Regions from separate parts of the Homo sapiens genome. Here regions 1 and 2 are each linked to region 3. Evidence: fine-mapped expression QTL. A gene starts in region 3. Each other region holds a variant in brackets. All regions are shown on one strand. Distances are between the middles of the regions. Region 1 holds the start of ANPEP (alanyl aminopeptidase, membrane). Region 2 overlaps ARPIN-AP3S2 (ARPIN-AP3S2 readthrough). Region 3 holds the start of AP3S2 (adaptor related protein complex 3 subunit sigma 2).

Region 1 (10,368 bases), 79 kb before region 3:
TGGCTCTATAATGAGAGGTCCCTGCTCTAGGCACCAGGCCAACCCAGGCTGGGGGCACAGAGACAGCCATGCTCTGCAGCCCCCACCTTCAGGAACACACAAAAGGGCTTCCCTCGTCCAGTCCCCTGCCACAGCCCAGGCCTGGCCACCTCCACACCCCATCGGGCAGTGGCGGCTATGCTACCCTCCCCTGTCACCCAACCCCACCAGCACACGTCAGCAGAGGGCTCTGCCTAAGAGTGTGGGTGGGACTCTCCCATTCAAACCTGGTGCCCAACCTGCAGAGTGAAACCTTAACTCTGGCTTGGGCCTTAATACCTTCTGTGAACTTGACCCTCTGGCCTGTCCTCTTTCTACTGCCCACTGTGGCTCCAGCTGCCAGCGTCTCCCCAGATCATCGGGGCTTTTTCATACCTCTGTGACTTTGCTCATTCTGTTCCCACTGCCAGGAATGCCTTTCCTCTCCCTCTTGTCAAACTCCTACTCATCCTTCAAAACCCAACTCAATGTCACTGCCTTATCATGCACACCAGCCCCCACTCCCCTCTGCGCTTCCCCAGTCTCCAGTTCCCACCTCTATCACAGCACTTAGGAAAATGCCACTGAGGCTGAGCGCGGTGGCTCATGCCTGTAATCCCAGCACTTTAGGAGGCTGAGGTGGGCAGATCACGAGGTCAGGAGTTGGAGACCAGCCTGGCCAACATGGTGAAACCTCGTCTCTAATAAAAATACAAAAAATTAGCTGGGCATGGTAGCAGGTGCCCGTAATCCCAGCTACTCAGGAGGCTGAGGCAGGAGAATCGCTTGAACTCGGGAGGCAGAGGTTGCAGTGAGCCGAGATTGTGCCACTGTACTCCAGCCTGGGGGACGGTGTAAGACTCTGTCTCAAAAAATAAATAAATAAATAAATAAATAAATAAAAATACAAAATTAGCTGGACGTGGTGGCGCACGCCTGTAGTCCCAGCTACTTGGGGGGCTGAGGCGGAAGAATCGCTCGAACCCAAGAGGTGGAGGTTGCAGTGGGCGGAGATCGTGCCACTACACTCCAGTCTGGACGACAACAGAACGAGACTCTGTTTCAAAAAAGAAAAAAAAAAAAGAAAAAGAAAAATGCTACCAGTGTGTTCAAAAGCCTGCTGCTGCACCCAAGCACCTCAAAGGAAGGCCTGGTGGCATCGTATGCCCCTCCATGCCCAGCACAAGGCAGGAGCCCAATACATGTTGGCCAAATGAATGACAACACCCACAGTCCTTGCCGTGACCTACAGGGCCTGTGTGATCCAGCCCCCAGTGATTCTCTGGCCTCATCTCAAACGCTCTCCCCTGTCACTTCTGTGCTCCACCCCAGTGGCCTCTTTCAGTTCAAATCCAACCTGCTTTTCCCCGCTTCATTCTCCCTTCCTCCCTACACACAAGCTGATCCTTGGGCCTGGAAAGCTTCCTGCCTTTGCTTCATCCACTCCCCACTTGCCCTGGAGACACAAGTCAGTGGTGCTGCCCCCAGGCAGCCCTCCAAGTGCCTCCATGAGGGTAGCACCAGGTGTGCCGTATCCTCTACACCTGGCGTGCAGTGGGAGGGCAACACGTGCTTGTGGAATGGGGCATCAGTGCAAGAATGAGAGACAGCAGTTAAGGATGGAACTTCAGAGCCTTGATCCTCGGGACAGGTTCCACCCTCTCTACCCGACATTCCTTCCTGGGCTTCTGGGCTGTGCACAAACCACCTTCGTGATCCACCTTTGTGATTATTTACTTCGTATTTTTCTTTAAATCAATTCACTTTCTTAGCCTCCTTCTGAGCGATAAAATCATGGTTGGATGTGTTAATTTATATTAACAATTCATGACTATTGGTTTAAAAATTGTTCCTGGGCCGGGCGTGTTGGCTCATGCTTGTAATCCCTGCACTTCGGGAGGCTGAGGCGGACGGATCACGAGGTCAGCAGATCGAGACCATCCTGGCTAACACGGTGAAACCTCATCTCTACTAAAAATACAAAAAATTAGCCGGGCGTGGTGGTGGGCGCCTGTAATCCCAACTACTCGGGAGGCTGAGGCAGGAGAATGGCATGAACCCGGGAGGCGGAGGTTGCAGTGGGCCGAAATCGTGCCACTGCACTCCAGCCTGGGCGACAGAGTGAGACTCCATCTCAAGTAAAAAAAAAAAAAAAAAGAAAAAAAGAAAAAATTGTTCCTCTAGGTAGCTCCTAAAAGGATCCTGTCCAGTTGCACCCGCTTTGGGAACTGCTGCTCCACCCTGTATGATGTTGGGGTTGCTGGCCCTGCGGGTTGTCTTTGGTGCAGGCTCTTTCTGCCAGTGAGCAAAATGCATGTGTTCCTTTCGCTGTGAATTTCTTGACGGGGTAGAAGCCGAGCTCTCAACCCACTTCAACTAAAGCAGCCTTTCTATGGGTTTATGTATTTCTTCCCTGCCTATGTTTTAGTCCAGAAAACGTAAGTTCTTCTAAACTAAAACCAAAGCCAAAACCAAAAAACATGAAGGTTGACAACGATCATGCCAGGGCATAACTAAGTCACAGTCACAGTGTGGAAGACACCCACACTTGTGGGTGGGGAGAGGCTCCTTGGTCTCAGATGTGAAGTGCAAGAGGCTTTCTACTCTAATATGAAGACTCCAGGAGCCTGGGAGGGGCTGTGGCCGGGAGAGCTGAGCACCCGTGGCCGGGTGAGCTGCTGTGTTATCCATGCTCCATCCCCGACCACTGGGTCCTTGGGTAGGCCCCACCCACTCCCACTCAGTGTCCCTGACTGTGAACTATGAGACTGGGAGCTCAGGGACAACCTGGGGCTCATTGTCTGCTCTGAGGGAGCAGTGAGCGAGAAGGGTAGGGACGAGGCTGGGCCTGGGCCAGGGCACACTCTGTCCCCGCAGGCCCCTGGCTTTCTCCCAGGCTTCTGAGGCCTCCGCCCATAGCTGCATCACCCCAGGGTGCTTCCTCTGGGAGCCTTGGACATTGCCCCTCCTGCAAGAACCTCAGAAGGCCCCAATGGGAAGTTGCCTCTCATCAGCCTCTTCAGCCCAATGCAGGGCACACAGGAGGAAGGAGCAGAGGCATTTGTGGGTGGGGGAAGTACACATAGGGTTTGTGTGGGGCCACAGATCCTGCCTGGCAACTCCTGTCTGCCAAATGGGGGGTGATTATCCTGGTGAGACACATGGTAGGTGAAACTGAGCACCTACTATGTGCCCTACCAGGATAATCACCCCCATTTGGCAAATGAGGACACTGAGGCACAGAAAGGTTAAGTGATTTGCCCAAGGCCACACAGCTAGTTAGCAGCAGGTTCCACAGCTTAACTACATATGCCTCCTAAAAATGTCCTCCCATACAGCCCCTCACATCTACTGTGGCCGTGCCAAGGGGAGTTGAAGACCACAGGAGAAGACACGCACCCATTTGGCCAGACCAGGGCTGGGAGCTGGGGGTAGTTCTCAGAAGTAGAACTTGTTAGCCAGGGAGTGCTGGGGGCTGCTTCCAGACACAGGCCTGTGGAGGACCCACATCTTGCCTCCAAGGTGTGACTGGGACCACTGTAGGGCCAGGAGTGACAGGCACCCGGGGTGAAGCCCGGGCTAGGGATAGATGGCTGCCAGCCTATGTGAATAAGGACACCCCAGGGCCTCGGTGTGCGGCTGACACACTGTCCATGCCATGCCTCCAGGGCTGTCCAGGAGCCCCAGCATAGGGTTCCAGATCTCCCACCAGAGCCAGCCCAGGAACTGGACCCAGTTCCAACACCTTGGCTCCTTCCGACATGGGGACCCCCATCTATGTCCTCAGAATGCCTAGCATACAATTCTTACAGCGATGGGGCTGGAGGCCTTAGCTTAAAGGCTGTAGGGGTGTAAGGAGCGCCAGCGTGTAACGAAGGTCTCATTCCCCAGAAGGCTCTGGGGGAAGCACAGGGCAGGCGGCTGGGCTGCCTCAAGACACTGGGCCGGTTTCCCCACCTGTGAAGCGGGAGCAGCGCTGTGGGTGGCCTCCTTGCACTCATAGTGTGGCCTTCGAGGCTAGGGCTCCACAGGAAGGTGGCTGAGAGTGGATGAGGGCCTCATGGGCCCAGCACACCCTCCCACAGGGAGAGGGGAGTCCACCCTCTTCCCTGCCCAGCTCCCCCATACCCACTGGGGCTAGCCAGCCTTCCTGTGGGACAGAGGCTGTCCCCACTTCCTCCTGGTCACCCCTACCCCACACGCCCACCTCCCCTCCACAAAACACATACCCTGAGGGGCCCTCTGGTCCAAGCCTCCCCTTTCACAGGTGAATTAACTGAGGCCCAGTAAGGCCAGGGCGTTTAGAGACTCAGGGATGAAGCCACATCAGACCTCAGGTCTGGCTGAGACCAGGGCTCTGACCACCCCCGAACACGGCCTGGTGGGTTGCAGTCCAGGGGCTGAGGTGGGGGAGGAGTGGGGATCCAGTCACAAAACCCCAGGACATAGCCCACCTGGGCCGTCCCTGCCCACCGCACTGCTGGGGGGGGGGGGTGCGTTCTGGAGTCATTTGGGGAAAGGATCCCATTGGCCCTGTTTAGGGGACCTTTTCCCAGACCAAGAGTGGATTGCAATGGGGCCCTGGATCTGTCTCAGTTGCTCACCAGGGAGGGCGTGGAATAGGCTCCACAACCCCCAAACCTCGGTCCCCATCCATGCCCCGGCATCTTGGCCGGGTTGTAGGAGCGAGGGAGAACGCGACTGTAACGCGGGCGTTGAGCACCTAGAGTTCCCCTTCCTCTTCACTGAGAGCTGCGGCGGAGGCTTTAGACCGAGGAGCGAGATCTAAGGTTAAAGAAAGGGCCTCTGAGCCCAGTGTTGGCCAGAGACCCCACAGGCGGGCCGGGTTCGCCCTTTGCCTTCGGCCGCGCCCCACCCACCAGGGACAGAGTGGCCGCGGCCGAGCCGGGTCCACCCGCCGCAGCTTAGCTCCGCTCCGCCGCCCTCCCCGTCCGTCCTCCCCAGGCTCCCGTCGCCCTCGCCCACCCTGGGGCCCCCTCCCCAGATGGGAGCCCCTCCGACCCCTGCGAGGCCCGCTGGGGACCCACTTGACCGCGAGATCGTAGTGGGAGCTCGGCCAAAAGAATTCTTCGCTTTCCCTGGCCCTCAGTTTACCCATCTGGGAAGAGGGGCGTCGCGGCCGCAGAAGTCCAGCTCCGCACGCGCCAAGCGCTGGGTCTGCAGCTCCCTCGGTTCCCGCGCACCCAACTGCCCCACGACCCCTACCCGCGCCCGCAGCCCCCGCCCTCCCGCCCCACTTGCCTGGGCCGCCGGGCGCTGGAACCTGGACCCTGGACCCTGGCGGGTTCCGAGCTGCGCCGCCGCCGTCCCTGCCCCTCCAGCACTGGACTCCTCCTTTCCCGTCTTTTTAAAGGGA[A/G]GTAACCGGACCCGACCACTACTCCACCCGATTCACCCCTAGCGGGCCGCCCGCCCGCAGCTCCGCCCGGGCTCCTCCCCCGTCCGCCCGCGGCTTCCCGGGAGCCCCCCAGGGCTCCTCCGCTCCTCCGACGGCCCGGCCTTCCCCCCGGGGCCTGGGATGCACCAGGGCTCCTGCTGCCCCCGACGGGGTCCCTGTCGCCGCAGCCCGCGGGACCCGCCGGCCACATCTGGACGGCATCTGCCGCGGGGGAGGGGCTCAGAGCCTCGCCCTGAGTGTCCCGCAGGGAGCCTTGTGCATCCGGGGCAGGAAGCCAGCGCATCCCGTGCAGACGGGTGGTGCAGATAACGGACCCGCCACAGCACGCAATTCAACTTTCTTGGTACCTGGGACTCGTAGTTCAGAAGGCGCAGTAGCACGACCTTGCGAAAAAGCACCGGAGTCGGGAACACGCGCTTCTCATTTTTTTCTTTTTCCTTTATTTGTTTTTGAGACAGAGTCTCGCTCTGTCGCTCACGCTGGAGTGCAGTGGCACTTTCTCCGCTCACTGCAACTTCCTCCTCCTGGGTTCAAGCGATTCTCCTGCCTCAGCCTCCCGAGTAGCTGGGACTACAGGTGCACGCCACCACGCCTGGTTAATTTTTGGAGTTTTAGTAGAGACAGGGTTTCACCATGTAAGGCTCGTCTCGAACTCCTGACCTCAAGTGATCCGCCCGCCTTGGCCTCCCAAAGTGCTGAGATTACAGGAGTGAGCCACCACACCTGGCCTGCGCCTCTCATCTTGATCCTGCTTGCAGAGGTTGTGCAGCCACCGGAGCCCCGCCAGGGTGGGGCTCCCTGTCTCTGAGCAGCTTTAATGGGCGGTACCAGATAATATTTGTATTGGTTCCCTGTGGCTGCCGTAACACAAACATAAAACAACACTAATTTACTATCTTACAAGTTTTGTAAAATCAGAAGTCCAAAATGGGTCTCGCTGGACTAAAAGCAAGGGGGTTGAGGGATACAGCTTTCTTGAGGCTGGAAGGGAACCTGTTTCTTTGGCTTTTCTGGCTTCTAGAAGCTGCCCACATTCCTTGGCTGGTGGCCCCATCCATCTTCAAAGCCAGCAGTGGCCCACCAGTCTCTCACAATCTGTCACTCTGACACCAACTGTTCTGCCTCTTGCTTCCACTGGTGAGCATCTTTGTGATTACATCGGGCCTACCCAGATAATCCAGGGTAATCTTTCTATTTTAAATCAATGGATTGGCAACTTGAATTCCACCTGCAACTGTAATTTCCCTTCGTGGGGTAGCATAACATATTCACAGATTCTGGGCATTAGAACCAGGGCATCTTTTGAGGAGGAGGATATGATTATGTCTACCACAATATTCAAGCTGACTTCCAGACTTTCAGATTTATAATCAAATTTAAGCTCTTCCTTATCCATGATTGGAATCCTTGGGACAGTTAAAGCCTTGCACTGCATGGTCCAAATTGATGGCTTTGTGACTGGCTGTGTTTTATTATTTTACTTGCACTTGCTCTTCTTTTGGAAACTTCATGGAGGACCAGGGTACCTCTAGGTAGCAGCCTTGCTTCTCCTTCCTAATTTGCTCTGTACTCTTAAAAACCAGGTCACAAACATATCGGAATATAGAATTGTGTGTAAAGTAAGAGTAAGTAGGCTGTGAGTGAGACCTCAGAGGCTATTTTGTTTTTTTTCTCTCTCCAGTCTCATGCATGTCTGACTCTCTCCACTATCATATCTGGCATAATCTCCTCCATGTCTGACAAGCCAAGGAAAACACTACATCAGGCCAGGAGAGAATCTTCCCCCCGGAGCTCTGCCTCTCCCACCCAGGCTCCGCGGAGATTTTAAGAGGAGTAAAGATCCTGCTGTGGCAGAAGTGCAACCCAGCTTTCTGGAGGGCAGTTTGGGGTTAGGAATGAAGATCACTTTCAGAAATTTAGCCTGAAGAGGCTGGGCGTGGTGGCTCATGCCTGTAAGGCAGGTGGATCACTTGAGGTCGGGAATTCAAGGCCAGCCTGGGCAACCTGGTGAAACTGTGTCTGTACTAAAACACAAAAATCAGCCAGGTGTGGTGGCGCATGCCTGTGGTCCCACCTACTTGGGAGGCTGAGGCACGAGAATCGCTTGAACCTGGGAGGCAGAGGCTTCAGTGAGCTGAGATCACATGACTGCACTCCAGCCTCGACTACAGAGCAAGACTGTCTCAAAAAAATAAATAAATTTAGCCTAAGGAAATAGAATATTTATATGCAAGGCTTTTCACTGCAGTATTACTTATAATACTGGAAAATCAGAAATAGCCTAAGTGGGCTGGGCGTGGTGGCTCATGCTTGTAATCCCAGCACTTTGGGAGGCCAAGGCAGGCAGATTACGAGGTCAGGAGTTCGAGACCAGCCTGGCCAATGCAGTGAAACCCTGTCTCTACTAAAAATACAAAAATTGGGTGGGCATGGTGGTGGGTGCCTGTAATCCCAGCTACTGGGGAGGTTGAGGCAGGAGAATCGCTTGAACCCGGGAGGTGGAGGTTGCAGTGAGCCGAGATTGCGCCACTACACTCCAGCCTGGGTAACAGAGAGAGACTCTGTCCACCCCCTGTGAAAAAAAAGATGAAGAGACAGTGCTTGCTCCTGCAGAAAGAAAATTCATGGGCTCATAAACATGTAAAAAGATGTTCAATAACTCACTTATTAAGAAAATGAAAATTATAACTACAAAAGATACTATTCTTCACTTACCAGATCAGCAAAGATAAAAAGCAGTTTGGTAGGTCAGGCACAGTGGCTCATGTCTGTAATTCCAGCACTTTGGGAGGCTGAGGCAGGAGAATCACTTAAAACCAGGTGTTCGAGACCAGCCTGGGCCACGTGGCAAAACCCTGTCTCTACCAAAAAAAAAAAATTAGCCAGGCGTGGTGGCACGTGCCTGTAGTCCCAGCTACTTGGAAGAATGAGGTGGGAGGATTGCTTGAGCCTGAAAAGTCAAGGCTGCAGTGAGCCATGATCGTGTCACTGCACTCCAGCCAGAGCGATAGAGTGAGTCCCTGTCTCAAAAAAAAAAAAAAAAGTTTGGTAACACACTATTCGCAAGGGTGGGAGGAAAACAGGCAACCCCCTGCATTGCTGGTTGGTGTGTAGACTGACTCGACCTCAAAAGAGAATATTTGGGCAGTATTTATCAAACATATAAACACATGTCCTGTTTGACTTGGCACTTCCAGAAATTTATCCTACAGATAATGCTCACACGTAAGTGAAAGGAATACACAAGGCTTTCCACTGCATCGCTGCAACATTGAGCCAAAACCACAATGACTTTTGCACCAATCTAATAGCTGGAGACAACCTAAATGTCCACCAATAGAGATGGGATAAATGAATGATTATTGTATGCCCTGCAATGGAATGCATATGGCTATCAAAAATAACTAGGATTCTCCTTACAGAACGCTCCCCAGGACAGGTTGTTTAGTAATAAAACCTAGACGCAGAGCCGTGTTCAAGTCGTTTATCAATTGTACTTAAATGGAAAAAGCACAGAGACACACAATTTGCTTTTATATGTGCACGCGCTGATAACACGAGTTGTTTCCCAGGAAGGAAACTGGAGCTGGAGAACAGGGTGGGAAACGCATTTTTCAGCATATCCTTTTGTTCTCTTGAATCTTGAACCATGTGAATACCGTGTCTAATCAAAATATAAATAAAATTAAAAGTGAAGACGAAAGACCAGAAGATTAACAGGCTTTATAATATAATTTTTTTTTTGAGATGGAATTTTGCTCTTGTTGCCCAGGCTGGAGTGCAATGGCGCAATCTTGGCTCACTGCAACCTCCGCCTCCTGGGTTCAAGCGATTCTCCTCCCTCAGCCTTCCGAGTAGCTGGAATTACAGGCGTGTGCTACCACACCCACCTAATTTTGTATTTTTAGTAGAGACAGGGTTTCTCCATGTTGGTCAGGCTGGTCTCAAACTCCCAACCTCAGGTGATCCACTTGCCTTGGCCTCCCAAAATGTTGGGATTACAGGCGTGAGCCACTGCGCCTGGCTATAATATAAAAATTTGAATGCCAGGTGAGGTGGCTCACATCTGTAATCCCAGCACTTTGGGAGGCCGAGGCAGGGGCATCGATTGAGGCCAAGGCAACATAGCAAGACCCCATCTCTATTTTAAAAACTTTTTTTAACTTGGCTGGGCGCAGTGGCTCATGCCTACAATCCCAGCACTTTGGGAGGCTGAGTCAGGTGGATCACCTGAGGTCAGGAGTCCCGGCCAACACGGTGAAAATCTGTCTCTACTAAAAATACAAAAATTAGCCGGGCATGGTGGCAGGCACCGGTTATCCCAGCCACTCAGGAGGCTGAGGCAGGAGAATCACTTGATCCTAGGAGACAGAGATTACAGTGAGCTGAGATCGCACCATTGCACTCTAGCCTGGGCGACAAGAGCAGAACTCTTTCTCAAAAAAAAAATAAATAAAAATTATAAACTTATATTTGTGGATGAAATGATTTGATGTCTCAGGTTTGCTTTGACCTAATCCAGAAGGGGTGGAGAAGTCAGGAATGCTCAATACAGCATGATTTAAAATAGGGGAAAATCAGAAACAATTAGATGTTCAGTAATGGAGGATTGGTTAAATAAATTATGGGCTTCTATATGAAAAAAGTACTATGCTACCATTCTAAAAACAATAAATCATAGCTGGACGCGGTGGCTCACGTCTGTAATCCCAGCACTTTGGGAGGCCGAGGCAGGTGGATCACCTCAGGTCGGGAGTTCGAGACCAGCCTGACCAACATGGAGAAACCCCATCTCTACTAAAAATACAAAAATACCCGGGCATGGTGGCGCATGCCTGTAATCCCAGCTACTCAGGTGGCTGAGGCAGGAGAATCACTAGAACCCAGGAGGCAGAGGCTGCGGTGAGCCGAGATCGCGCCACTGCACTACAGCC
Region 2 (10,368 bases), 22 kb before region 3:
CCTGTAATTCCAGCACTTTGGGAGACTGAGGTGGGTGGATCACCTGAGGTCAGGAGTTGGAGACCAGCCTGACAGATATGATGAAACCCTGTCTCTACTAAAAATACAAAAATTAGCCGGGCATGGTGGCAGGCACCTGTAGTCCCAGCTACTCCGGAGGCTGAGACAGGAGAATCACTTGAACACGGGAAGCAGAGGTTGCAGTGAGCCGAGATCACACAACTGCACTCCAGCCTGGGCAACAGAGCGAGACTCCGTCTCAAAAAAAAAAAAAAAAAAAAGTCACCATGGAGGTATACTCCACGTTGCCTAGACAATGAACTAGCTTAGACTAGGGGGTTGGGAGGCTACCCCTTCTCCCAGTGAGAGGGGCTGCACCCAAGCACAACTTCCCACAGCACCTACAGCTGTCTTCTCCAGGTGTGTATTATCCCACAGGTCCCTAAGTTTCCAGGTGTTGGGCAGCTGGCATTCCCAGACAACTTCCTTTTTTTTTTTTTTTGAAATGGAGTTTTGCTCTTGTTGCCCAGGCTGAAGTGCAATGGCATGATCTCGGCTCCCTGCAACCTCTGCCTCCTGGGTTCAAGTGATTCTCCTGTCTCAGCCTCCTGAGTAGCTGGAATTATAGGCATGCACCACCAAGCCCAGCTAATTTTGCATTTTTAGTAGAGACGGGGTTTCTCCATGTTGGTTAGGCTGGTCTCGAACTCCCGACCTCAGGCCTCCCAAAGTGCTGGGATTATAGGCGTTAGCCACCGCACCCGGCCCCTAGACAACATCTATAAGCAGCTGGCACACAAATACAGATTTCGTGGTGTCTAAGCATTCTGCCTATCTCTCCACTAGCAAAGCTACTCTCACAGGTGCCTGATAAAAAAGACAGCATTGGAGGAGGTGGGTGATGGGAGTCATTCCAGCAGAGACACCTCAATACACCTCTCCATGGGCTCTTCTCTTGCTTTGAAAACTCCCCCTTTTCCCCTCTCCCTCTCCCTCTCCCTCTCCCCCTACCCCTCCCCCTCCCCCTCTCCCTCTCCCTCTCCCTCTCCCCACGGTCTCCCTCTCATGCGGAGCCGAAGCTGGACTGTACTACTGCCATCTCGGCTCACTGCAACCTCCCTGCCTGATTCTCCTGCCTCAGCCTGCCGAGTGCCTGCGATTGCAGGCACGCGCCGCCACGCCTGACTGGTTTTGGTGGAGACGGGGTTTCGCTGTGTTGGCCGGGCCGGTCTCCAGCCCCTAACCGCGAGTGATCCGCCAGCCTTGGCCTCCCGAGGTGCCGGGATTGCAGACGGAGTCTCGTTCACTCAGTGCTCAATGGTGCCCAGGCTGGAGTGCAGTGGCGTGATCTCAGCTCACTACAACCTACACCTCCCAGCCGCCTGCCTTGGCCTCCCAAAGTGCCGAGATTGCAGCCTCTGCCCGGCCGCCACCCGGTCTGGGAAGTGAGGAGTGTCTCTGCCTGGCCGCCCATCGTCTGGGATGTGAGGAGCCCCTCTGCCTGGCTGCCCAGTCTGGAAAGTGAGGAGCGTCTGCGCCCGGCCGCCATCCCATCTAGGAAGTGAGGAGCGCCTCTTCCCAGCCGCCATCACATCTAGGAAGTGAGGAGCGTCTCTGCCCGGCCGCCCATCGTCTGAGATGTGGGGAGCGCCTCTGCCCCGCCGCCCCATCTGGGTTGTGAGGAGCGCCTCTGCCCGGCCGAGACCCCGTCTGGGAGGTAAGGAGCGTCTCTGCCCGGCCGCCCTGTCTGAGAAGTGAGGAGACCCTCTGCCTGGCAACCACCCCGTATGAGAAGTGAGGAGCCCCTCCGCCCGGCAGCTGCCCCGTCTGAGAAGTGAGGAGCCTCTCCGCCCGGCAGCCACCCCATCTGGGAAGTGAGGAGCGGCTCCGCCCGGCAGCCACCCCGTCCGGGAGGGAGGTGGGGGGGGTCAGCCCCCCACCCGGCCAGCCGCCCCATCCGGCCAGCCGTGCCATCCGGGAGGGAGGTGGGGGGGTCAGCCCCCCGCCCGGCCAGCCGCCCCGTCCAGGAGGTGAGGGGCGCCTCTGCCCGGCCGCCCCTACTGGGAAGTGAGGAGCCCCTCAGCCTGGCCAGCCACCCCGTCCGGGAGGGAGATGGGGGGGTCAGCCCCCCCACCCGGCCAGCCGCCCCGTCCGGGAGGGAGGTGGGGGGGTCAGCCCCCCGCCTGGCCAGCTGCCCCGTCCGGGAGGGAGGTGGGGGGGTCAGCCCTCCGCCCGGCCAGCCGCCCCGTCTGGGAGGTGAGGGGCGCCTCTGCCCGGCCGCCCCTACTGGGAAGTGAGGAGCCCCTCTGCCCGGCCAGCCGCCCCGTCCGGGAGGGAGGTGGAGGGGTCAGCCCCCCGCCCGGCCAGCCGCCCTGTCCGGGAGGGAGGTGGGGGGGTCAGCCCTCCGCCCGGCCAGCCGCCCCGTCTGGGAGGTGAGGGGCGCCTCTGCCCGGCCACCCCTACTGGGAAGTGAGGAGCCCCTCTGCCCGGCCAGCCGCCCGGTCCGGGAGGGAGGTGGGGGGGTCAGCCCCCCGCCCGGCCAGCCGCCCCGTCCGGGAGGGAGGTGGGGGGGTCAGCCCTCCACCCGGCCAGCCGCCCCGTCTGGGAGGTGAGGGGCGCCTCTGCCCGGCCGCCCCTACTGGGAAGTGAGGAGCCCCTCTGCCCGGCCAGCCGCCCGGTCCGGGAGGGAGGTGGGGGGGTCAGCCCTCCGCCCGGCCAGCCGCCCCGTCTGGGAGGTGAGGGGCGCCTCTGCCCGGCCGCCCCTACTGGGAAGTGAGGAGCCCCTCTGCCCGGCCAGCCGCCCCGTCCGGGAGGGAGGTGGGGGGGTCAGCCCCCTGCCCGGCCAGCTGCCCCGTCCGGGAGGTGAGGGGCGCCTCTGCCCGGCCGCCCCTACTGGGAAGTGAGGAGCCCCTCTGCCCGGCCAGCCGCCCCGTCCGGGAGGGAGGTGGGGGGGTCAGCCCCCTGCCCGGCCAGCCGCCCCGTCCGGGAGGTGAGGGGCGCCTCTGCCTGGCCGCCCCTACTGGGAAGTGAGGAGCCCCTCTGCCCGGCCACCACCCCGTCTGGGAGGTGTGCCCAACAGCTCATTGAGAACGGGTCAGGATGACAATGGCGGCTTTGTGGAACAGAAAGGCGGGAAAGGTGGGGAAAAGATTGAGAAATCGGATGGTTGCCGTGTCTGTGTAGAAAGAAGTAGACATGGGAGACTTTTCATTTTGTTCTGCACTAAGAAAAATTCTTCTGCCTTGGGATCCTGTTGATCTGTGACCTTACCCCCAACCCTGTGCTCTCTGAAACATGTGCTGTGTCCACTCAGGGTTAAATGGATTAAGGGCGGTGCAAGATGTGCTTTGTTAAACAGATGCTTGAAGGCAGCATGCGCGTTAAGAGTCATCACCAATCCCTAATCTCAAGTAATCAGGGACACAAACACTGCGGAAGGCCGCAGGGTCCTCTGCCTAGGAAAACCAGAGACCTTTGTTCACTTGTTTATCTGCTGACCTTCCCTCCACTATTGTCCCATGACCCTGCCAAATCCCCCTCTGTGAGAAACACCCAAGAATTATCAATAAAAAAAAAAAAAAAAAAAGAAAACTCCCCCTTTCCTAGTAAAATCTATCCTTGAATCCCTGAATCTACACCTGAGATGTTAAGAAATTCATTTGCAGCCTGGTGAGCAACAGGTGGCATCTTCAAAGAACCCACTTTGCACACTAGGTGGTAACTTCGAAAGTAACACCTTGTATTTAACAATTTGGTTGTTTTTTTTTTTTTGAGACACAGTCTCGCTCTGTTGCCCAGGCTGGAGAGCAGTGGCGCGACCTCGGCTCACTGCAACCTCCGCCTCCCGGGTTCAAGCGATTCTCCTGAATAGCTGGGATTACAAGCGTGCACCATCACGCCTGGCTAATTTTTGTACTTTTAGTAGAGACAAGGTTTTGCCATGTTGGCCAGGCTGGTCTTAAACTCCTGACCTGAAGTGATCTGCCCACCTCAGCCTCCCAAAGTGCTGGGATTACAGGTGTGAGCCACGACGCCCGGCCTGTATTTAACAATATTATTTTAAAATCATAACAATAAGGCCTACAGAAGGCACCTCTCCATTCCCCCTATATTTTCAAGTCTCTTTAATACTTGAAAGGGACTCTAGTTCCTCTAGTACAAAAGGGAACTAGATTTGAGCTATGGCTCTCCTTGACAGAAGTTGCAAAATAGCAAATCTTTAACATATGAAAAGTACAAAACAACTCTAAGTGCTTGCAAAGAAAGGGTGCTAAGAGATCGCTGAAGTTTCCAAAAAGTATACAACCCTTTCATATGAAAGGGAGGGTGACTCAAAAGCATCAGTAAATACTGGAAGCCCCGTGAGGTTGTCAGGGAGTCCAAAGTTAAGTATCTAAAGAAGGAAAAGGGTTCCATGATGTTCCTGCACTAGGATGCTGATAGAGTCACAGAGCCATGTCAGATGGTGAGAGACAAAACTTTACTCCATTCTAATGTCATCCAAACTCAAGAATGCATTCACTACATTAGCCTGGAAAGTGGGGATCTGCCAACCTCAACAGAGTCAACTAAGACTGAAGACCCTATTGAAAAACAACAAGAAAGTCCTTTAGACAGCAATGCTAGCAACGATGGATCTAAAAACTCCTACTTCATCATGATGAAAAGGTTAATAAAGGATCATGGCTTAGCAATGAGCAGCAGTCTCCTAAAAAATCATCTCTCTCCAAGGGCCAGGGATCATAATGACAACAATCAGTTGAAGAAAAACCAGGACCAAGCAAACCAAAGACGCACCAGTAAACTGCACAGGGGACAGCATGTGGTAAGTTGAATAAAATAAACATGGCAATTCCTATTCCCTTGCTGGCTATTGCCCAAGTTTAATTTGGCATATGAGGACATAGGCCATGTCACAGTTATCCTAGCAAAACAAATCTGAGAACACCTACTTGGGGCCATTTTAATTCTGCCTCTGATAGTCTACCTTCCTATAGAATATCACCTGACCTTGAATTACATTACAGATCTCTTAGTCACTATATTACTCTTTAGGAAAGATATAAATTTTACTATCTAAGTCAAAGCCCCTGCGTCATGATTATTCCAAAGTTTCATTGTCACTGGCCTATGACTAGGAAACTAATTTTATAATCAGCATAAAACTATTTATCTCACCTTTGGCCAAGTAGCCAGTGACATCATTCTCCTATATCAAGAAATCAGTCTGTGAACAGATGAACCACGATATAGGCCTAGTAATAATCTTATGCACGTTAAAACTGTTAGTAGATCTTAGCAAAAACAAAACAAAACCCAAACTATTAAATCTATTAAATAAAACATGTTCTAGGACTATCTTAAGAGTAAAAAAAAACAAGAAACAATATGAAGATGTAGAGGTGGCTA[C/G]AGATGCCCAAGGCTCTTGGTTTTCTAGTAACCCTAGTTTGGAAGAGAACTGCAAGAGAATATACCTTATCCATATGGAAGATCAAATCCAATTCACACACATTTTCGAAACACTTATCCAGAGTTTCCACAAAAACCTAGAAAACAAGGAGAAATAGATAAAGAAGAGAAATAGGAACACATTCACAGCTTTATCAATGTCACATCTGAAAGTAAAAGGGGCTGTCACAATACTATTTACTTTATGATAAATCTCAAAAATTAAAACACCTACCTTTTGTCTCCAGCATTAGCTGATCACCCTACTTATCTCGATTTAGAGGGAATAATCTAGGACAGGAAAACCTTGTTTTCAGCATAGCAACACAACCAGCAGACACATGTGGCTCTTTCCCCCTTTATAAGATGCTAATTTATGGTAGGGCATGGTGGCTCATACTTACAATCTCAGCACTTTGAGAGCCCAAGGCAGGAGGATCACTTGAGGCCAAGAGCTCACGACCAGCCTTGCTAACAAGACGAAAACCCATCTCTACTAAAAATACAAAAATTATCTGGGTGTGGCGACACGAGCCTGTTATAGTCCCAGCTACTTGGGAGGCTGAGGCACGAGAATAGCTTGAATGAGAATCATTTGAGGTGGAGGTTGCCATAAGCAGAGATCGCACCACTGCACTCCAGCCTGAGTGACAGAGTGAGAGTCTCTCAAAAAAAAAAAAAGAAAAAAGAAAAAAAATTACATAAAAGAATAACAAATTAAAAAAACCAACTACTTACAATACTATGTCCTCAATGAATACATGTACAAAAAATTTTTCATTATTACAGGGTTAACATAGCTGTGTTTTAATTTCAGCCAAAATTAACTTCAAAACATCTTCCCTTTTTAATTTTTTTGGTCAGTTATTTAGCCTACAAAATACCTTCCTATGAATAAATTTAATTGACGTGTTTACAACTTAAAATTTTTTTTTAAAAGCCCTGAGCTTACTTCTCTATAGAACCTTTTAACTTTTAATAAAACATAACAGAAAAGTGTACAAATGACAAGGGCACAGTTTAATGAATTTTCAGAATGAACACACCATGTAACTACAACCTAGGTATCTATCTATAACTGTTTAATTTCTCTCAGACAATGACCTCATTTAAACAATCTCATTGTCAGCAGTGTCATGAATTGTTCGGCACTGCATGAAAATGGGTCTTACTTGAGGCCAGCAAGTGACAGAGACCAGGCACACCGTTCCACTGTAGCACAAGATGGGTGCTCATAGGCAAACCACCCTGCAGCGGCTGCTGGGGAGACAGACCCACTTGCCATGAGGAACCAACGCACACTATTGGAGCTGATCCTGCTCTGTCTCTTCTCTATGTAAGTAAAGCTTTATCCAGTGTTTGCACTTTTTCCTTGCCGACTCTGATACCAAGATGCAATGGGCAAGAGCATTTAGATTCCTTTCTTGAGACTGGTAACCAGTGCACTGTATTTTGCCAGATACCAACCATTTTGGAAAACTATGACATTATGTATGCATGCTCTATGATCTAGGAATTCTACTCCCAGATAACATATCTAACAGATATATACATGTATGCCAAAAACCACATACAATAATTTCATATTAGTGCCATTCATAAATCTTTACATTTTTAACAGTGCCAGAATATTTCACTATAAGGACACATAGTTAAATGGGTCTATTTCTCAATCACTATGCTGGGTACTTGGTAAGCCCTTATAATCCTGCAGTTCAAGTCCTTCAGTTCTGGGAAATTTTATCGAATTATTTTGTTGAGAATTCCCTCCTTTCCACATTCCTAATCAATCTTTTTGGAGCTGCTTATATTCAAGTATTGGACCTCTGTCTGTCTTCTTTTTTTTTTTTTTTTGAGACAGACTCTCGCTCTGTTGTCCACGCTGAAGTGCAGTGCCACGATCTTGGCTCACTGCAGCCTCTGCCTCCTGGGTTCAAGCAATTCTCCTGCCTCAGCCTCCTGAGTAGCTGGGATTACAGGCATGCACCACCACGCCTGGCTAATTTTTGTATTTTTAGTAGAGACGAGGTTTCACCATGTTGGCCAGGCTGATATCCAATTCCTGACCTTAAGTGATCCCCCTGTCTTGGCCTACCAAAGTGCTGGGGTTACAGACGTGAGCCACTGTGCCCGGCCTCTGTCTTATTTTCTCATCTTTTCTCTCCCATTTTCCATCTCTGCCCATTCTGAGACAATTGATTAACTTGATTTTCTAATACTTCAGTTGAAGTGGGTTTTTGTTTGTTTCCATTTCCTCTCATTTTTTATTTCTAAGAGACCATTTTGTTCATTTTGTGTGAGCAACAAGGCTGTGAGTGTTTTTGTTTAGCACCCATTTAGCAATAAGACATAAATGGGTCTTATTTTATTTCTAATTAATAAATGGGTCTTATTATTATTTAAAATAAATGTCTTATTTCTCTGTGGCTTTTTTTTTTTTTTTTTTTTTTGAGACAAGGTCTCACTCTGTCACCCAGGCTGGAGTGCTGTGGTGTGATCTCAGAACACTGCAGCCTCAGCCTCCCGGGTGCAGGTGATTCTCCTGCCTCAGCCTCCTGAGCAGCTGGGACTACAGGTATGTGCCACCATGCCTGGCTAAAATACTTCGTATTTTTAGTAGAGATAGGGTTTCACCATGTTGGCCAGGCTTTCTCTGTAGCTTAAGAATAGGGTTTTGGGTTTTTTTTTTTTTTAAACTGTTTTCCTTTCTTTATATGGTGTCCATTTTTAAGTTGCTTTTTATTGTTTGTTCATTTTATCTCCTTCTTCTATGTTAGAGGTTTTCCGCAGATGTCTGATAATCCTTTGTTTTTCATTTGTTACAAGAATAAAAGGCTGATTGAAAGCTCTACAATCATGGATATTTCTTGCCCACCTCCATGGTTATTTGCTTCCCTAGCGAAATCTGTCTCACGTGTCCATGTGAAGAGACCACCAAACAGGCTTTGTGTGAGAAACAAGGCTGTTTATTTCACCTGGGTGCAGTCTTTCTAGGTATCAAAATTCATTGTAAAGCTTTGTTAACTAAAATAGTATAATACTAAGGCTGGGTGAGGTGGCTCATGCCTATAATCCCAACACTTTGGGCAGCCAAGACAGGAAGATCCCTCGAGCCCAGGAGTTTGAGACCAGCCTGGGCAACATAGCAAAACATCGTCTCCACAAAAAAATAAAAATAAAAAAATTAGCCAGGCATAGTGGCACACACCTGTAGTCCCAGCTACTTGGAAGGCTGAGGTGGGAGGATTGCTTGAGCCCAGGAATTCAAGGTTGCAGTGAATTATCATTGCACCACTGCATTCCAGCCTGAGTGACATACCAAGACCTTGTCTCTAAATAAATTTTAAAAATAAAATAAAAGTATAATTCTAAGATGGGAATATAGATCAGTGGGGCAGAATATAAATTACTGAAACATACATGTTTATAAAATGCAATTTTAAAAATAAGAGTCGTATTTTAAGTTGGTGGGGAAAAGACAAGCTAACTGATAATGTTGGAACAGTTATCCTTTGGGGGAAAAATAAAGTTACATATTTCAATGCAGACATAAAAATATCTAACAGATATTAATGAGCTAAATGTAAAAAAATAAATTAAAAAAGCAACGGCAGATCCCCTGGGTGCCATCCAGGCCCCCGGAAGGAGCTATTCAGTCTGTGGCAAAGCTTTGAGGTGGCTGGTACTGCTAAAAGCGGCACGTGGAGGTGCCCCCTAGCGGCCTGAGCTCTGTTCTGCGGCAGCCAGAGCACATGCGAGGAGAGCCAGACCACAGTTTGCAGCAGCACCATCCCAAAAGGCTGTTTTCATTAAAGATGTTTCATGAAACTAAGACTGGGTTCTCAAGATAGGGTAGTTATCCAGGACAAGATGGACTAGCCCCAGAAAAAGACATCCCCAGATAGTGGGTGGAAAAAGAACTGTCAGATGCATCTGTTTTTCTTACTCAAAATATTATTCAAGATCACAATCAAGGTCAAGAGAAAGAAAACAAGAAAGAAAACGAAGGACGAAAACACAAAGCGCATGCTGATGGGCAAAGAGGCTGAACTGAAGACATTGCAGACTCAGGTAGGAAAATAATAAGCCTATTTCATGATGAGGCAAGAAGACAGGAATCCTACAACAAATCCTCTAAGAAATACACTTCTGAGGAGCATAATGACAAAGAACATTATTCTGATAAAGGAAGAGAGGGACTAAATTCATCTGAAAATGGGCTGGGCGCAGTGACTCACGTCTGTAGTCTCAGTACTTCGGAAGGCCAAGGTGGGCAAATTGCTTGGGCTCACAAGTTTGAGACCAGCTTGAGCAACATGGCAAAGCCCTGTCTCTATAAAAAACACAAAAGTTAGCCAGGCGTGGTGGTGTGTGCCTGTGATTCCAGCTACTCGGGAGGCTGTGGTGAGAAGCTTGAGCCGGGGAGACAGAGGTTACAGTGAGCTGTGATTGTGCCACTGCACTCCAGCCTGGGCAACAGAGTGACATGCTGTCTCAATAAATAAATACATTCATCTGAAAATGATGAGGACAGACACAAACACAAAGAAAGCCATCAAGAAGCAGAAGTCACTCAAGATACAGGTCTCGTGAAAGGCATCATCGTAGTAGAGGGAAAAGAAGTAGTCTCAATCCAGAAGCAGAGAGAAGAACGATCATGATCTAGAAGCAGGAAAAGAAAACCATGGGCTGGACATGGTGCTTCACACCTGTAATCCCAGCACTTTGGGAGGCCAAGTCAGGCAGATCACCTGAGATTCAGGAGTTTGAGACCAACCTGGCCAACATGGCAAAACCCTGTCTCTACTAAAAATGCAAAAATTAGCCAGGCGTGGTGATGCATGTCTGAGGTCCCAGCTACTTGGGAGGCTGAGGCAGGAGAATCACTTGAACCCAGGAGGTGGAGGTTTCAGTGAGCTG
Region 3 (10,368 bases):
AAATCCCGTGGAAACTCTCTAAAGCTGCTGCCATCATTAGCTGACTACACATACCTGGATGAGGTCCAAGATTCCAAGTTCACTCTCTGAGGAATCCACACAAAATACAAAGTAGAGGGTAGCATAGTGCCGGTAGATCAGTTTGTAGTCAGAGCCACCAATCAAACTGCAGAAGATGGGAAACATTTAAATGCCCACAGCTTAATTAAACACATCAAAAAGAAACCTTGTGCCAAAGAATGAGAAAGGACCCACTGGAAAGGAGAAGGCCAAACGCTAGAAGCAGGCCATTCTTACTAGGTGAATGGCAACCAAGTTTGGCAGAGGTACCTAAAGCCACCTTACCTCACCTCTTCTCCTGCCTATCCTCCCGGGGATCAATCATCTAAATGAGCAATATCAGAAGCACAATAATTGAACTGCGCCCCAAAGAGAATTGTGTCTCTCCCTGAGCAGATCATGGTGAGACCAGCTAAAGTTGCATCAAGTACCCACCTGACACTTGAGTACTGTCAGAAGATGCAATAATGAAGGCCACTCACAAGTGGATATATGGGGAGAAAAATGAAGCTGACAGTTTACCTTCCACCCTCCAAGAAGTTACAGATGTTGTCATCCCGCTTGAGGACTAGATGGAAAGTCTCTCGAACAATCTGCTGTTGAATTTCTTCTGGCTATGAAACAAAAAGATAAGTGAATCAGTGGGCAAGCCTGAAAAACTACATCCCATCCATGGGGATGGACAAGGGAAGAAGTGTTTCTAAGCTGGGAACATCTAAACATTTAGTACTTGTTTCTAGAAATGATAAAAATGATGAGAAAAAATAGGAGTGAATCTATGAAAGATGGGTGACAATGCTCTGATACAGGAATTAAGATAGGGTATATTTACCTAAATATCTAAGTCACTAACCATTACTGTCCTATAGGTAAGCTGATATTTAAACAAGAAAAGGAACATTGATAAACTCTCATACAAAGTCAGAGAATAACTGGAAGGCCTGATCCTGAAATATTTTGTCTTCCCCTGGAAAACATCTATGACAAAGATATAATAAATCTCAACAGGTCTAACATTTTAAGAAGGTCAAGATGTGGGCCAGGCACAGTGGCTCACGCCTGAAATTCCAGCACTTTAGGAGGCAGATCACAAGGTCAGGAGTTCGAGACCAGCCTGACCAATATGGTGAAACCCCATCTCTACTAAAAATACAAAAAAAAACAAAACAAAATAAAACAAAAAAACAATTAGCTGGGCGTGGTGGCGCATGCCTGTAATCCCAGCTACTCGGGAGGCTGAGGCAGGAGAACTGCTTGAACCCAGGAAGCGGAGGTTACAGTGAGCCGAGATCACGCCACTGCACTCCAGCATGGGCGACAGAGTGAGACTCCATCTCAAAAAAAAAAAAAAAAAAAAAAAAAGGTCAAGAAGTAATCATGTAAATGTTTTAAAAAGTTATATTGGCAAATACAGCTGCCATCTTTTGTACTGGTAATATAGATACTACATATAAGATGCTGTGTTACTCACCAACAAAGTATTATTGAGAAAAATAGATTACAGATTAAAATTTTGAACAGTTACAAATAAAATGTATTATTATTATTTTTAGACAGAGTCTTGTTCTGTTGCCCAGGCAGTGGTGTGATCACAGCTCATTGCAACCTCCACCTCCGGGTTCAAGCGATTCTCCTGCCTCAGCCTCCCCAGTGGCTGAGATTACAGGTATGTGCCACCATGCCCGGCTAATTTTTGTATTTATAGTAGAGATGGGGTTTCACCATGTTGGTCAGGCTGGTCTTGAACTCCTGACCTCAAGTGATCCACCTGCTTTGGCCTCCCAAAGTGCTGGGATTACAGGTGTGAGCCACCATGTCTGGCCTTATTTTTTCACTTACTACGTGCATAAGAAAGCTCAACTCTGATGAAATCACTTTGATAACTCACCTTTGATTTCTAATTATACATATGAGTTTCAGAAGAAGTATGGTTAAAAGGGTAAGAGAGGGAGAAACCAGCAATTAAGACAGATAATAACTTAAAGCTCTAGAGCATTGCTTCTCAAATCTTCATTTGCAATGAATCAGCTGTGAATGCTGTTAAAATACAGATTCGGATTTAGCAGGTATAGGTTAAGTCCTGAGATGCAAGTCTAGTAAGCACCCAGGCAATAACATTTCTGCTGGTCTGGGGACCACACTTTGAGTAACGAATCATAAGAAAACCTTCAAATTGGACTTGCCCCAAGAGTTAGAAAATAGGTTCAAGTAATTTTAATCCCTTTCTTTCTATAGCCCTGAATTTAGCTTTGAAATGGTTATTTAAAAGAAACAGAGAGGGGAAAAAAGGGAAAACGTAATTGTGGGGAAATTACTTTGACTCACATGGGTATGGAATGGCTCACAGTATTTACTGACTGAATGAAAACTTGCTAATCATTGGTCACTACAAATTTGAGTAAATTAATCACTATTTTCCTCATTTCCATTTAAAGAACAAACAAAGCTCACAGATGACAGGATGCTGTAGGAGACGAACTCTATATATGCAAAATACAAAACATGCTAAGCATCAGCACTTTTTAAAACTGACAAAGACATCTTTTGAACTAAAGCCTTTTATCTGACTCTGGGGGAAGTGGCAGCAGTGGGGAAGTGGTACGAAATGATGAGGCTACCTAATTTCTAGTTCAATAAAAAGGTAAACTACCAATTGCTTACATGCCTCAGTGATTTTAATAACCCCTCATATCTTTTTAGTACTCTGTAGTTTTCAAGGTACTTTCATCCATGAGCTCATGAGGTCTTATAAAAATCCTATGATCCAAAGATACACGAATGGGCAATAAGCACATGAAAAGATGCTCAACATCATTAGTCATTTTGGAAACTGAAATCAAAACCACAATGAGCTGGGTGCGGTGGCTCACGCCTGTAATCCCTGCACTTTGGGAGGCCAAGACGGGCAGATTACTTGTGGTCAGGAGTTCGAGACCAGCCTGGCCAACACAGCGAAACCCCATCTCTACTAAAAATACAAAAATTAGCCAGGCATGGTCGTGGGCACCTGTAATCCTAGCTACTCAGGAGACTGAGGCAGGAGAATCACTTGAACCCGGGAGGCAGAGGTTACAGTGAACCGAGATCACGCCACTGCAGCCTGGGAGATAGAGTGAGATTCAGTCTCGGAGGGAAAAAAAAAAGCCACAGTGAGATACCACTTTACACCCACTAAAATGTCTTTAACCAAAAATAAATAAATAAATAACGAATGGCAGGGATGTGAAGAAACTGGAATCATTATACATTGCTGATGGAAATGTAAAATGGTGCAGCCACTTGGAAAATTTGTCAAATAGTTTGCAGTTTCTCAAAATGTTCACCACAGTTACCATATGATCCAGCAATTCTACTCCTAGGTATATAACCAAGAGAAATGAAGTCATAAGTCCACATAAAAACTTGCACAAGAATGTTCATAGCAGCATTAATTAGAAGAGCCAAAAAGCAGAAATATCAACTTATAAATTGACAATCAAAATATGGCATATCCATATAATGGAATATTATTCAGCAATAAAAGAAATGAAGAACATCAGATACATGCTACAACATGGATGAATCTTGAAAACATTATACTACATGAAACATGGCAGACACACAAAAAACCACTTATTTATGATTCCATTTATAGGCAACGGAATAGGCAAATTCCATTTGCCATTCTGGAACTGGCAAATTTAGAGGGAAAGAAACTCTCTGGGGCTGGGAGAGTCATGGAGAAATAGGGAGTGACTGCTAATGGGCAGAGGTTTCTTTTTGGGGTGATGAAAATGATCTAAAATTGATTGTGGTGATGGTTACACAGCTTCTGTGAACATGCTAAAAAACACTGAATTGTCCCCTTTAAATAAGTAAACTGGGGCCGGACACAGTGGCTCATGCCTGTAATCCCAGCACTTTGGGAGGCTGAGTCCGGTGGATTGCTTGAGCCCAGGAGTTCAAGACCAGCCTGGGCAACATAGAAAGACCCCGTCTCTATAAGTAAATAACATAAAATAAATAAGTAAACAGTATGGCATGTTAGTTTTATCTCAGTAACCCTGTTAGAAAAAAACTAGGGGGGAAATTTGCATACACACAAATGCAAATACAAATAGTTACGCTGAATACTCATATACATACATATATATATATACTTTTTTGTGTGTGTGTGTGATGGAGTCTCGCTCTTTCGCCCAGGCTGGAGTGCAGTGGCGCTATCTTGGCTCACTGCAAGCTCCGCCTCCCGGGCTCACGCCATTCTCCTGCCTCAGCCTCCTGAGTAGCTGGGACTTGGAGGTGCCCGCCACCGCGCTTGGCTAATTTTTTGTATTTTTAGTAGAGACGGGGTTTCACCGTGTTAGCCAGGATGGTCTCCATCTCCTGACCTCGTGATCCGCCCGCCTCGGCCTCCCAAAGTGCTGGGATTACAGGCGTGAGCCACCGCGCCCGGCCTGAATACTCATATTTTTACCTCGATGTAATCTACTTAATAAAATGTAATCTAGCTTTAAAAATCTTATGAAGGAGTAAAATTATTTTTTCATTTCTAATTGACAAAAGACAATAAAAGTCTGAAAAGGGTTTATTAACTTGTCAACAGACGCAAGAGTAGAAAAGGTGGAGCTGAAGCCTGAACACGTTTTCTGGCTCTTTCCCCTCTTCAGTTCCACCAGTCCCCCAATTATGTAACATTTTGAAACCCTGCCATGAAGAAATATAATCTTCGAAGACAGGAAGCAAATACTGATGTTTATGTGTTTGCAAAGGAACGTGTTGGGAAAATTCAAATTTACGTAATCACTTATTGAGCCCTTATGCGGCAGCATTTATAATTTCTCATCATTTTTCCACTTTTAAACTGATTTTCTTCAACCCTAAGAGTGAAGGGTATCTAGTCTCTGGAAAGTCCCAGCCAACACTGAAGCAAAATAATTCCAAAAAAAAAAGAACTTTTCCAGTTCTGGCTATAACAAAAACTTTCAGAAACTTAATATTTCTTCCTCATGAAACTGTGGTCAACAACCAAAAAGATGACAGAATGTGACTTCAATCACTCAAGTTCTCATCGAGGCACACTCCCCACTGTCGCTTCTATCTCGTTCCCAGAGACCCACGGGAAAATGTCACAAAATGGCACAGAAATGCCAGGATCAAGAAAAGGGTCAGCGAGAGCGGGGCAGTAGGGCGGGAGACAGAAGGCCTGGCACCAGCCTGCGCCTAGATTAAATGCTTAAGTAGGGCGAGGGTCATGCTCGGTGCAGGAGCCCCAGGTGACCAAAGAGCGGTGCCCCCGGGCGCCGAGAGGCCAAAGAGGAGGGAAGACATAGTGGGCGCCCTGAAGGGGCGTGGTGAAGCCGGGCCGCACTCACGAAACGCTGGTAGAAGCGGACTAGCCGTGGCTTCCCATGGTTGTTGAAAACCAGAATCGCCTGAATCATCTTTGCCAGCCACGGTTCTCTCAGCACCGGCTACTCCCAGAAAGCTCCTCCTTCCGCCACAACACGATCACTTCCGGTTGGTGCGCTGCTGAGAGCGGCACTCGGAAACTTGGCCCCGGCGCTCACGAGCCCTAGCACCCAAGGGTCCGGCCTCTCTGACGCCTTGGAGGGCAGGTGCGGATGCCGAGGAGAGTGGTCACCTCGGCCAGCGTTGGTTGGCCAGTCAGGATGCGAATCCGGATCTATGTCCCTCGCCCAGACCGACGGCTGGCCCCAGAAGCCGAAACGACCGTCAGCCGGGTTGCCAAAACGGAGAGGCGGCGGGAGCTTGCTTTTCTCACCGCCCGCTCCAAATCATGCACTCCCGCCATCCCCTTAGCGCTCGCAGAACGTTCCGCGGAGTGGAGACGCCGGTCATTCGGCCGTTCGTCGGTTATGGAACATTTCGTTCATTTTAATTTTTCAGTATTATAATGCTGCAGTGAATTACGTAGCTGTCTCTCCGTGCAGATGGGCTGTTCCTCTATGGTAGACGGTGAATGGTGGAATTAAGGAATTTTTAGTGCATTTCCATTTAAAATCCCAAATCGATCAAGTTCTTATTTTTGTTTGTTCTTTTAATGACCCAGTGTGGGTGAAGTGGAGCATGTCCGTATACTGCAGATGGAGCAGCGGATACAGATGCAAATCGATCCAGAGGACTGTTTGGCGATATGGATCAGAAGCCTTTAAAATATATAACAGTCCGGGCGCGGTGGCTCACGCCTGTAATCCCAGCACTTTGGGAGGCCGAGGCGGGCGGCTCACTTGAGGTCAGCAGTTCGAGACCAGCCTGGCCAACAAGGTGAAACCCCGCCTCTACTAAAATTACAAAAATTAGCCGGTTGTGGTGGCGCGCGCCTGTAGTCCCAGATACTTGGGAGACTGAGGCAGGAGAATGGCTTGAACCCGGGAGGCGGAGGTTGCAGTGAGCTGAGATCACACCACACTGCACTCCAGCCTGGGTGACAGATATATAACATATATATATATATATATAAAACATTAGACTCAGCGTTTCCAGCTCTAGAATTTATGATAAAATGATTGTGGATGTGTGAAAAGATTTAGCCTGAGGAACATACATTTCTGCCAGAGTATCTTCAGAACAGTAAAAAAAAGAAGAAAAAAATATATATCTCAGCAGTGTTATTACAGGGGAAAATGGGAAGAAAATTATTACAAAAATGAGAAATTGGTTAAGTGCATTGTTCTACATTGAATATGAGAAATATTAAATAGATAATAAAAATCATGCTGGGAAAGATTTATGATACGGAAGTGTTCATGACACCTGTTAAGCTAAAAGATTACACAAAGTATGTACAGGGACAACCCACTTTGCTCAAGATTGGAGGCAAATACACCAAAATATGAATCATGTATCTGATGGAATGGCAGAGTCAGGGTGTTTGATCTGTACAGGACCCTGGAACCACACTGCCCTGATTCAAAGCATGGTTCTGCGGACTGCCTGGGCACCCTGGGCAAGTTTCCCCATCTGTAGAAAAGGTGTAATATCAGTTTCCTAAACTGGAAAACTGGAAAATGAGTCTACTGACTTCAGACAGTTGTTATAAACACAAAGGGAGTTAGTATAATATTTGTAAGCACTTGGACAGTGCATGGCACATAACTGAGTACCACATAAGTGATTTAAAAACATCTTTGGGTGGTAGGATTATCAAGTTTTCCTTTTTTTCCTTCAAAGAAATATGTACTACTTTTGCAGCCAGAGTTCTGGGGTTTGCTTGTTTGTTTTTCAGAGATAGGGTCTTACCCAGGTTGGAGTGCAGTGGCACAGTCATACCTCACTGTAACCTCAAACTGCTGGCCTCAGGCAATCCTCCAGCCTCAGTCTCCCAAACCGCCACCACGCCTAGTCCAGTTTTTTGTTTGTTTGTTTGTTTGTTTGTTTGAGATGGAGTCTCACTCTGTTGCCCAGGCTGGAGTGCAGTGGCACAATCTTGGCTCACTGCAACCTCCGTCTCCCGGGTTCAAACAATTCTCCTGCTTCAGCCTCCCCAGTAGCTGGGATTACAGGCACATGCCACCATGCCCAGCAAATTTTTGTATTTTTAGTAGAGATGGGGTTTCACCACATTGGCCAGTCTGGTCTCAAACTCCTGACCTCAAGTGATTCACCCATCTCAGTCTCCCGAAGTGCTGGGATTACAGGCGTGAGCCACTGCGCCCGGCATGGCCCAGTTTTTAAATAAATAAAAACCAAAAGTCAGTTGCACTGAAACTTGACAAAATGTTTAAAATGTTGAGGAAGAATATCAAAGAAAATTCTGAAACAGAATTATGAAGAAGAACTAGCTCTGCCAACTATGAAAACCTACTTTGATGGTTCAAATTGTAATTATAGGAAGAATAACTGAAATATTATAAATAATTTAGGCATAAAATAATTTTAATATGTGATGTAGGAGTGGGAAGGAATTCAGTAAATACTATTAGGATAACTGGTTAGCAATTTGAAAATAAGTAGTTAGGTATAAAACCAGATAATAACCTAAACAGAAGAAAGCGAAATTGAATAAGATCCAAAAATCTGTATTAGCTTAGAAGCAATAAAAATCACAAAACATCAACAGATATATAAAGTTTTTTTATAAAAAGAATTATTTAATGGAAAAATCGTTGTTAAAATATGGCAAATGGTTATATTTAAAATGCAAATAACTGATAAACTAAAAAGATAACACTCCCCATCTCCCCAGTAGATAAATGGACGAAAGAACGAATAACAAAGGGAGAAATACAGCTAGGAAAAGGAAAAAATGTTTAAGCTCACTATAAGTGGGGGAAAGGCAAATTAAAATATATTCAAATATTATTTTCACCTCATCAAAAATCATTTTAAAAATGTTTTCATACCCAATTCTCACAAGGGCAGCATAAAAATGGTTCTCCCCTACATTGCTGGTGAAATTATGGTTTAGAACAACCCTTTTGGGAAGCAATTTGGCAATATAACAAGAACTTTGCAAAAGATTTCTAGATTCTCAGTAATATGACTCCTGGGCATCTGTTCCTAAAGAAATAACCCAAAAATATAGTTAGAGGTGGGGAATTAAGAGAACTATATAATTTTCAACATTTTTGGAAACATTAATTCTGTTAGCCACACAGGGATCAATTTTAAATATCCAAAAGTTGGACCATGACAGAACTATCCAATGGTAGCAATCTTAAAAATAATGGTTACAGGTGGGCGTGGTGGCTCACGCCTGTAATCCCAGCAATTTGGGAGGCTGAGGAGTGAGGATCACTTGAGATCAGAAGTTCAAGAAAAGCCTGGCTGACATGGTGAAACCCCGTCTCTACTAAAAATACAAAAACTAGCCGGGCGTGGTGGCGTGTGCCTGTAATCCCAGCTACTCGGGAGGCTAAGGCAGCAGAATAGCTTGAACCCGGGAGGCAGAGGTTGCAGTGGGCCAAGATCGCGCCATTGCACTCCAGCCTGGGCAACAAGAGCAAAACTCCATCTCAAAAAAAAGAAGAAGAAAAATGGTTACAAAGACTATGCAGCAATATGGAAAGTGATTATGTGTGGGCATAGTGTTACAACAACTACCTACAAGCATTACAGATGTTTCAGAATTTGTCTAGCAGGTTTTCCAGTTTGTACCAGAAAACCCCTATGCAAGTTTACAAAAACCAAAACTATGTACACAAATTACATGCTAAAAAACCCAAATACTAAAAATTATGAACATGACTGAGTGAAACTATGAGTCTTTTTTTCCCCTTTAAATATATTTCCTAAATGCATTGCTATTTGTGGAGATTAGTTTAGTCCCTCAAAAAATTTTCCCATAATGTCCGGCACTGTGGCTCATGCCTGTAATCCCAGCACTTTGGGAGGCTGAGGAGGGTGGATCACCTGAGGTCAGGAGTTCGAGACCAGCCTAGCCAACATGGTGAAATCGCATCTCTACTAAAAGTACAAAATTAGCTAGTCGTGGTGGCGCAGGCCTGTAATCCCAGCTACTTGGGATTACAGTAATCCTCCTGCTGAGGCAGGAGAAACTCTTGAACCTGGGAGGTGGAGGTTGCAGTGAGCCGAGATTGAGCCATTGCACTCCAGCCTGGGCAACAAGAGCGAAATTCCATCTCAAAAAAAAAAAAAAGAAAGAAAGAAAATTTCCCATATGAATGAAGCTCAGAGGATTTGCTTGGTTCTGTTTGAAGATACAAAATAACTGTAATTTCCATCATTAGGCCCATGGTGAAAGGCAAGCTGGACACTGGTGGAAGAAAAAAAAATTCAGATGGGTAGAGGAAAGGGACCTCCCTCCAAGAAAAGAGTCCAGGCAAGGCAATGCAAGTGGGGGAGTGACCTGCTCTGGGAACAGCCAGCCCCTCCATGGGACCAACACAGCCCTTCCCAAACTGTTTCTCACAACAGCTGTCCCATGAAATGCTCCTCACAAAAACGGGTTCTCTGACCAAAGAAATGTGGGAAATACGTAATCATACCCTGTCCTGAAGAGTTACAGTAAATGTTAGTATAGTTAAAGCTCCAAGAAATCCTACAGAAATGTTTGAGTTTAACACTACGTTTGTTCCAACAAATTAGATCATAGAAACACCACCACTTTTTGTTTCTAGCCCTATTAACAACCTGTGGAAGATCCCTCAGGCTGGTCTGAAAGAATCGCCCCAGAGCTCTTAAGGAGGAAGCGAGCCGAGAAAGGAGGGTTGTGACATTGTGATGAGCTCTGAGTTGTATTAAGGAATTTGAACTTTTCATCTGGGGAGTAATAGGATCCAGTCTAGCTTCCAAAAGCTGCCCCTACCAGCCACATGGGGGCCCCTGAAAGCAGGGTTTCAGCCC

The links. PIP is the estimated chance that this variant, and not a neighbour inherited with it, causes the effect.
Region 1: its variant is fine-mapped to the expression of AP3S2 in whole blood (TOPMed, PIP above 0.99).
Region 2: its variant is fine-mapped to the expression of AP3S2 in whole blood (INTERVAL, PIP above 0.99). The same link has a PIP of 0.9 or more in esophagus muscle.

The regions. Positions count from the first base shown.
Region 1 is chr15:89,809,492-89,819,859 of GRCh38, forward strand. ANPEP (alanyl aminopeptidase, membrane) reads right to left here and starts at 5,361. Exons shown (of 21, transcript NM_001150.3): 1 at 5,281-5,361. RefSeq lists an enhancer at 4,930-5,429, promoters at 5,297-6,451, 5,297-5,785 and cis regulatory regions at 5,400-5,405, 5,657-5,785, 5,693-5,696, 5,695-5,724, 5,742-5,744. The variant A/G (reference allele first, on the strand shown) is at 5,396.
Region 2 is chr15:89,866,001-89,876,368 of GRCh38, forward strand. It overlaps ARPIN-AP3S2 (ARPIN-AP3S2 readthrough), which reads right to left. Exons shown (of 10, transcript NM_001199058.2): 8 at 5,475-5,546. It overlaps AP3S2 (adaptor related protein complex 3 subunit sigma 2), which reads right to left. Exons shown (of 6, transcript NM_005829.5): 4 at 5,475-5,546. Among named protein-coding and RNA genes, the nearest start is that of MIR5009, 13 kb to the right of the region's middle. The variant C/G (reference allele first, on the strand shown) is at 5,410.
Region 3 is chr15:89,888,467-89,898,834 of GRCh38, forward strand. AP3S2 (adaptor related protein complex 3 subunit sigma 2) reads right to left here and starts at 5,528. Exons shown (of 6, transcript NM_005829.5): 1 at 5,415-5,528; 2 at 583-674; 3 at 55-166. The coding sequence starts at 5,483. It overlaps ARPIN-AP3S2 (ARPIN-AP3S2 readthrough), which reads right to left. Exons shown (of 10, transcript NM_001199058.2): 6 at 583-674; 7 at 55-166. It overlaps ARPIN (actin related protein 2/3 complex inhibitor), which reads right to left. Exons shown (of 6, transcript NM_182616.4): 6 at 6,540-10,368. It also overlaps the pseudogene RNU7-111P. RefSeq lists enhancers at 3,817-4,566, 5,559-5,708, 6,063-6,810.